Linked DNA regions of Homo sapiens. The protein of the gene in region 2 interacts with the protein of the main gene of each other region in a pairwise test. Each region holds a gene or a part of one and is shown on either strand. Other genes may lie near its edges.

Region 1 (3,822 bases), on a different chromosome or scaffold from region 2:
GGCTCGAGCAAATCCTCCGACCTCAGCTTCCTTAATAGCTGGGACTACAAGTTTGTGCAACCGTGTCTGGCTAATATATATTTTTTAATTAAAAAAAATTTTTAAAGATTGTCTTTATATATGATTTTGTGACTCTATTTTTTTTTCTTTTGTTTTGAGACAAGGTCTTGCTCTGTCACCCAGGCTGGAGAGCAGTGGCGTGATCCTAGCTTATTGCAGTCTCAAACTCTTGGGCTCAAGTGATCCTCCTACCTTAGCCTCCAGAGCAGCCAGGACCACAGGCATCTGCCATAACGCCCGGCTAATTTTTGTACCATTTGTAGAGACATGGTCTGAATTTGTTTCCCAGACTGGTCTCAAACTCTTGGGCTCAAGTGATCTGCCCACGTCGGCCTCCCAAAGTGCTGGGATTACAGACGTGATCCAACATGCCTGGGCAAGAATACCTTTCGTTGAGCAAATTGTTGAGAGGTAGAATGAGGAAAACTTTTGGCTAAAAGGGACCCCAAGATATCCCAAGTGGCATATTTATAGATGTGAAAGTGATTCCACAGCTGGGCATGTCAGATCAAAATTCTCCATGGATCAGGAATGCCTCCTTTTCCTTTTCTGTCACCACCGGTCACATTTGGCTACTTAATTTCTGGGCTCCAGTGCAGCATGGAAACGCGAGGCCCTTTGTTCAAAAAGTGTTCGAATTTCTTTTCTTCCTTCTTTTTTTTTTTTTTTTTTTTTTTTTGAGACGGAGTCTCGCTCAGTCACCCAGGCTGGAGTGCAGTGACACGATCTCGGCTCACTGCAGCCTCCATCTCCCAGGTTCACAGTGTGGAGAGGCAGGGCACGGTGGCTCATGCCTGTAATCCCAGCACTTTGAGAGGCTGAGGCAGGAGGATCACTTGAGCCCAGGAGTTTATGACCATCCTGGGCAGCTTAGCAAGACCCTGTCTCTAAGTAAAATTAAAAAGTTATAGCCAGGTATGGTGACACACACCTGTAGTCCCACCTACTCCAGAGGCTGAGACAGGAGGATTGTTTGAGTCTACGAGTTTCAGGCTGTGGCGAGCTATGATCATGCCACTGTACTCCAGCCTGGGCAATAGAGTGAGACCCTGTTTCTCTCTTTCTTTCTCCCTTTCCCTCTTTTTTAAAAAAAAGACATTGTGGAGAGTGTGTGTGTGAGTTTAGGGTGAGGGGGACTAATTGCTGTTCTAAGAGTTTCGTAGTTGGGGGGGTGATAAGGAGGGGATGGGGGGTGATGAGGAGAGGGATGGTTGGTGGGTGGGCCTCTTATCCCAGGAGATAAGCCAAATTGAAATGAAGGCGCAAAACAAGGGAAACAAAATGGGACTAACCGTGGTGGCATTTCCTGGCCTTGGGGCCTGAGGGAGGGAAGACTGTGGAATTTATTTAGAAAACTTCCAAACCAGCGGTTATGAGTCTTTTTTACTATTCTGGCCTGTTGCTCTTGTTCTTTTCAGAATTATAAATGTGTTTGTGTGGCTGTTTGATCTCAAAGCAATGCTCAGAAGATGCAGTGTCTCGAAATCCCAGAAGATAAGATGTTACCACATGAAAGATGGTCTCAATAAAGGGGGAGAGGCGGTGGCCGAGGCCTTAATTTCCAAAACGAGAAACTGGGGCCCACCCATCTTTTAAAGGTCGTCAAAAGAAAGCTCCCATCCTCCCATCCCCCACACCTGTGTGTTGACTCTGTAAAGATGCAGTTTCCTCACTTTGGGAGGAGAGGCCGTGGTTTTTGCAGGAATTGCGCCGCTGCCGAATTCAGCCATTGCCTCTTGGAGGTTTAGGATGCCCCAGGCCTTGTTTTCCCTCAAAGCATTCCATTGGCAATCACGACCAACCATGCTCCTTGAGGATTTCTGTACACACTGGCTTTTCCTGGTCTTGTAAGTTTTTATACGAGTCAGTTTTCACCATAAATCATGGAGGTGGGTCTGGGGCTGTGACGGCGAGTCCTCGACGTTCAACCCGGATGTAGGTCACTCCAGACCCCCAGGGTGCCCTGTCGTTCCCTTTGCTGGAAGTTTCAACAAAGCCAGAAGCAGATGTCAGGGGTTCCCGGGGTCATCTGGGAGGGATGTCCGCTGAGTTTAGGGGCAAGCTGGGACTGCTGCATTTCTGTTCCTGTACGTCAGAGGAAACTAGCAACACGCCTCAAACCACTTTACACCATGTCTCAGTGTTAAACCAGAGCCTGTTTTCACAAACACCTCCTGCGATCTCATTACAGCCCCACCCTGCCCTCCTGCTTCTGTGGCCTTCTCTACTTTGCTTCTTGCTCCTCTTAAAGACCTTCTGTCTCATCTGTCTTTTCTGGGGTTGGGCCTTTCCCCTTCTCTATAACCTTCTGTGACTCCCACGGCTCACAGCTTTGCTGTATATTAGGAGCAGAAAGCAAGCTTCATTACATCATTTAAAATTTTTTAGTAGCTACATTTTTTTTTTTTTTGAGATGGAATCTCGCTCTGTGGCCCAGGCTGGAGTGCAGTGGTGTGATCTCAGCTCGCTGCAACCTCTGCCTCCCAGGTTAAGTGCTGGGATTACAGGCGCACGCCACCAGACCTGGCTAATTTCTGTATTTTTAGTAGAGATGGGGTTTCACCATGTTGGCCAGGCTGGTCTCGAACTCCTTACCTCAAATGATCCACCCATCTCAGCCTCCCAAAGTGCTGGGATTACAGGCATGAGCCACCGTGCCTGGCCGCCACATTTAATGTATTTATTTATTGATTTTTGAGACAGAGTCTCACTCTGTTGCCCAGGCTAGAGTGCAATGGCGCAATCTCAGCTCCCTGCAACCTCCACCTCCCGTGTTCAAGTGATTATCCTGCCTCAGCCTCCTGAGTAGCTGGGATTACAGGCGCCCAATATCACACCTGGCTAATTTTTGTATTTTTAGTAGAGACGGGGTTTCACCATGTTGGCCAGGCTGGTCTCAAACTCCTGACCTCAGGCGATCCGTCTGCCTTGGCCTCCCAAAGTACTGGGATTATAGTCGTGAGCCACTGTGTCTGGCCTCTTTTTTATTTATTTTGTTTTTATTTATTTATTTTTGAGACAGTCTCGCCCAGGCTGGAGTGCAGTGGCGCAGTCACGGCTCACTTGAACTCCTGGGTTTAAGTGATTCTCCCACCTCAGCCTCCCAAGTAGCTGGGACCACAGGGGTGCACCACCATGTCTGGCTAATTTTTAATTTTTTTGTAGAGACAGTGTCTCCCTATGTTGCTCAGGCTGATCTAGAATGCCTGGGCTCAAGCCATCCTCCTGCCTCAGCCTCCCAAAGTGCTGGGATGACAGGTGTAAGCCACCATGCCCGGCCTAGTAGCCACATTTTGAAAGGTACAAAGAAACAGGTGAAATTAACAATACATTTTACTTAACTTCATATATCTAAGCTGTGGTCATTTTAATATATCAATATAAGAAATTATTAATGAGATATTTTACATTCATTTTTTCCTACTAAGTTTTGAAACCCAGGGTGTATTTTTACATTGACATTCTATCCCAAATTGAATGCTAAATTTTTATCAAAAAACATTTTGATCTATATTCAGTGTTCATCAAATTTACCATTGAAAAAATGATTCATATATTCAAGTTGTCCCAGACTTACATAAAAGCTTCCCAATAATTGAATTGTTAGTTTTCACATTTAAATTGCTTAAACTTAAATACAAGTAAAAATTCATTGGCAAGTAAAAAGATGAAAAAGAAGCTAAAACAAAAAAAATTCAGTTCTTCACTCACACTAGCTCATTTCTTTTTTTCTTTTAGACATAGAGTGTCGCTCTGTCACCC
Region 2 (3,822 bases):
CAAAAATAAGACCTCTTACCTCTCTCCAACCCCTACACACACATACGCGCACACACAACACACACACACCAAAGACTTCATGCGATTCCAATGTAGCTAGCCTAGTCATTGGTATTTGTCATGATAGAGCTCATCACTAATAGGTCATTTCTTTTTGTGCTAGAAGCACCTTGTATATGTTATATATCTAGTTCAATGGTTCTCAATCTTGCCTACACAATATAATTACTTGAAGAGCTTTATAAATCCTAATGCTGAAGCTTTTTCCCAGAGCAATTACATCAGAATCACCAAGCATAGTAGCCACTATTTTTAATTTGTAAAGCTCCCCAGATGGTTGCAACGTGCATTTAATTTTGAGACTGCTGATCTGTAGATAATAGTTTGCATTTTCTGCATCCTTCCTAATATATAATTATGTAGTCCAAAACCCAAACACTGCCTGGGAAGTATGTAGGCCAACCACGACTGTCCCACTTTGATGGAACATACAACTGAGGTTGACCATTTGGGGCCATACTATAATAACTCCTTTTTATTGAACTTCATGTTTATTATATTTATTTCTTTAAAAAAGTGCAATCTAGTTATCATTATCCCAGTTTATAGACAAAGACACATCGTCTCCTGAGTCAGAGGGAACTGCCCAAATGAGTAACATGACCTGAGGCTGAGTGACACCGAAGCTTATGATAACTGCACAAAACCAGTGATTCTCAAAGTGTGGGCTCCAGACCAGCAGCATCAGCATCACCTTGGAACTTGTAAAAAAGAAAATGCAAATTCTATGACCCAATCCCACCTCTACTAAGTCATAATCTTTCAAGATGGGGCCCAGGAATCTGTGTCTTGACAAGCCCTTCAGGTGATTCTGAGGCTCCTTATAGGTGGACAGTGTACTGTATTCTGTCTCTATCAGCTGCTCACTTTTGAGACTCAGAATCTGGCAAGAGACCTAAAAATGTGTGGGAGCCTCAGTGAGTAAGCCTGTGTGAGGGAGGAGATATTTCTCTCACTATCTTCCCTTCCTCTCATTTCCAATCTATATTAACAATCTATGTTGAAAATGCTAGGGGATGTATCAGAGATACCATATGGGAAAAAATTGGTGGAGTTATGCTGGTCATATTTACTTGCAGGGGTGCCTGGCTATGTTGAGCTACTTTCACACAAGTGTGACCATTTTAATATGTTGACGAATGGTTTATCCTTTGAATCACAGTATGGAGAGTTTTAATAGTTTCATTAAAAATGAATATCCCAACTGTTTCCAGGGAAATGAGTTTGTGATCTTAAGGGCTTTGAGGTAATTGGTGTTTAGGGAACCAAGGCAGTTGGTTTGCTTTCTTGGATGGAAGCTGCTTCAGCTTACTACCATGCTGTAAAACCCAAGTGCTGCTGACCTGCTTAGTGTATTTCGGCTATGCTTAGGGTTCATTTATTAGAATTGTACATTTGACTAGGGGGAAATAAAAATTAAAAGGCCACTTGTGTTTGATTTATGAGAGATGTCGATTAATATTTTCTGAGCAAACTGTGAAGTCCTTTCTTTTAAAGAAGTATATAAAATAGGCCTTTGGCATATTCAGGTCTGATGGAAATTTGTCTCATGGGGCAGGGTGAGATGGGAGAAAGAGAAATCAATAAAGATAGAGAAGAGAAAAAAATAGAGGAAGAGGAGGATGGGGAAGAGCTGAAAGGAGACAATAATTCACAAGGGGAAGAGACAGAAGAGGTGAAAAAAAGGAAAGCAAGGAGGAGTGAAGAAATAAGAGGTGGGGTCAGAAGGATTAAAAAAGGGGAAAGAAAAGAGTTTGGGAAAATGGGGGAAGGAGAGAAAAGGAAGAAGAGAAGGACATATGGGCAACAAAAAAAAACATAAAATAAAAAAAAATAAAGCAATGAATGCAGACTTTGGAGCCTAGCAATTTATTGTGAAGTGCCACTTGTATTAGACATGCTGCAGAGATGCTGGCTCCAAAGATTAATGATGGCAGTAATCATGATTCCAATTTATAGCAAATGCAATGAAAGGCAGCCAGACCCCAAACAGAGAAACCCTACGGGGATGGCATTGGAATAATAACATAGCAGCAGTCGAGGAATACAGGGATGCTGAGAGATTGGATTCAGTTCTCCTGTGTTCAACAAACATTCTGTATCTGATGTACAATCCAATGTTAAAAAGAAAAAAAAAGTCTGCTTATTACTAGATCTCTGAATTATAGCAAAGAAGTTTAGGTGTTCACATGAACACATTTGAAGTTTTATTCTGTGATTCACCTCCTCTGAGCACTGACTTTTGGCCCAGATTGGTCTTTTACACCTCCTTTCCTTTCTGTCCTTGCTGCTCAGTGTTTTTCTGCTGCCAGTGGTCAATACCACTGTTTCATTGCAAATACCTGCTGTCTCTGAAGCCTGGAACCACTGCAGAATAGGCATAACTACTCATCCTCTTTCCTGGTTGTCAAAACCCTTTTCCCTTTATGCATGTTTATTTGTATGTATTGTCTTGATATATTACCTATCAGATTCCTTTAATCAGTGGTCTGTGTGTGTGGTGAGCACTCATCTCCATTATAATCTCCTCTGCCCCCACCTATTGCCACGAAGTCCTAGGTCTTTGCAGATGATCAAATTTTGGAGAAGAAACAAATTTACTCTGCATAATAGAGGGAGAAAAACTTAGAAAGCCCAGGGCAAGGAGAAGGGGCTGAGGAGCAGAAATGGGAGAAAGACAGACTCCATTCATTCAGACAGATGGTGGAAACTTGTGTGCAATGCGCATGCAGAAACCCTATAAAAATATTCTGCAGTGTCAACTACCGGTATGAATTCTCTGAGTAAATTGCTGTTGTGGATTCCAAAGAAGAGGTAGAGATTCATATCTAGTCTGCATAAGGTTGGACAAAGGCAGCAGTTGTGGTGGTCAGATGTGAAGAGGATGGCATTAGAAGAAATCCTTGGACATCACAGACTTCTACACGCACTGGAACTGGGGTTCTTAGGGGCTGGGTTTCAAAAGGATCAAAGCAATTTAATTTGGATCTCCAGGGGTGCCTGTAGCTACTTTGGTTTCCATATGTATAAGAACAAACTATATGTTGGGATGTGTATGCTATTTGATACATAAACATTTGATGCCTTTAAGGATGAACTGTTTTCAGATAGATTCATGACAGCAAGTTTTCTCTCCCTATTCAGACCATAAGCTCCTTAAGGATAGAAGTGTATCTTCTCTGGCTTTTGAATAACCTGCAGCATCTAGTTTAACCCTTAGCACATACAAAGTATTTGGTAAGAGACTGTGTCTCATAGTCAGCCTGGATCCACTCACTTTCTCTCACCCCACCCTCTGGGGTTTTCTGGGCTCTCATTCCCTTTTGAAGATGGTTCACCCAGGAGGGAGGGTCATCTGCACACCTGGATTGCAGAGAACCAGGTACAGTGATGACCTACAGACACCTGTGGTTTACAGACATTGGCAGCATGGTTTTTTAAACTATAAAAGTTACAGTAATTATCCTCCAATTCCAGGAATGGAATCCCTTGATAGGCCTCAATCTACATTCAAGATTCAAGTCAAGCACCAGCCTGTATTTAAAAACTAAGGAAACAATGGAAGTTTAATGAAATTATGTCATTATAGTTGATGAAGAGAAAATATTTCAACCAAGAACTGAATTGAATAAAACTTTCTCAGAAACTCTTTGTTTAATGGGCAATCACAGTATGCCAGCATGGGTGTGCCACAGAGAATCAAAGTCCACAGATACTGATTATATTCCTATCTGGGAAGGATCAGTATGAAATATACATATG

What was found.
Region 1: the proteins of KCNIP4 (region 2) and LITAF interact in a two-hybrid assay, tested with the Homo sapiens proteins (one large-scale study listed by BioGRID and IntAct).

The regions. Positions count from the first base shown.
Region 1 is NC_000016.10:11,559,231-11,563,052, reverse strand, and holds part of LITAF (lipopolysaccharide-induced tumor necrosis factor-alpha factor), read left to right. Parts: intron 1-1,886; exon of another isoform or gene 1,887-1,907; intron 1,908-3,822.
Region 2 is NC_000004.12:20,846,620-20,850,441, forward strand, and holds part of KCNIP4 (Kv channel-interacting protein 4), read right to left. Parts: intron 1-3,822.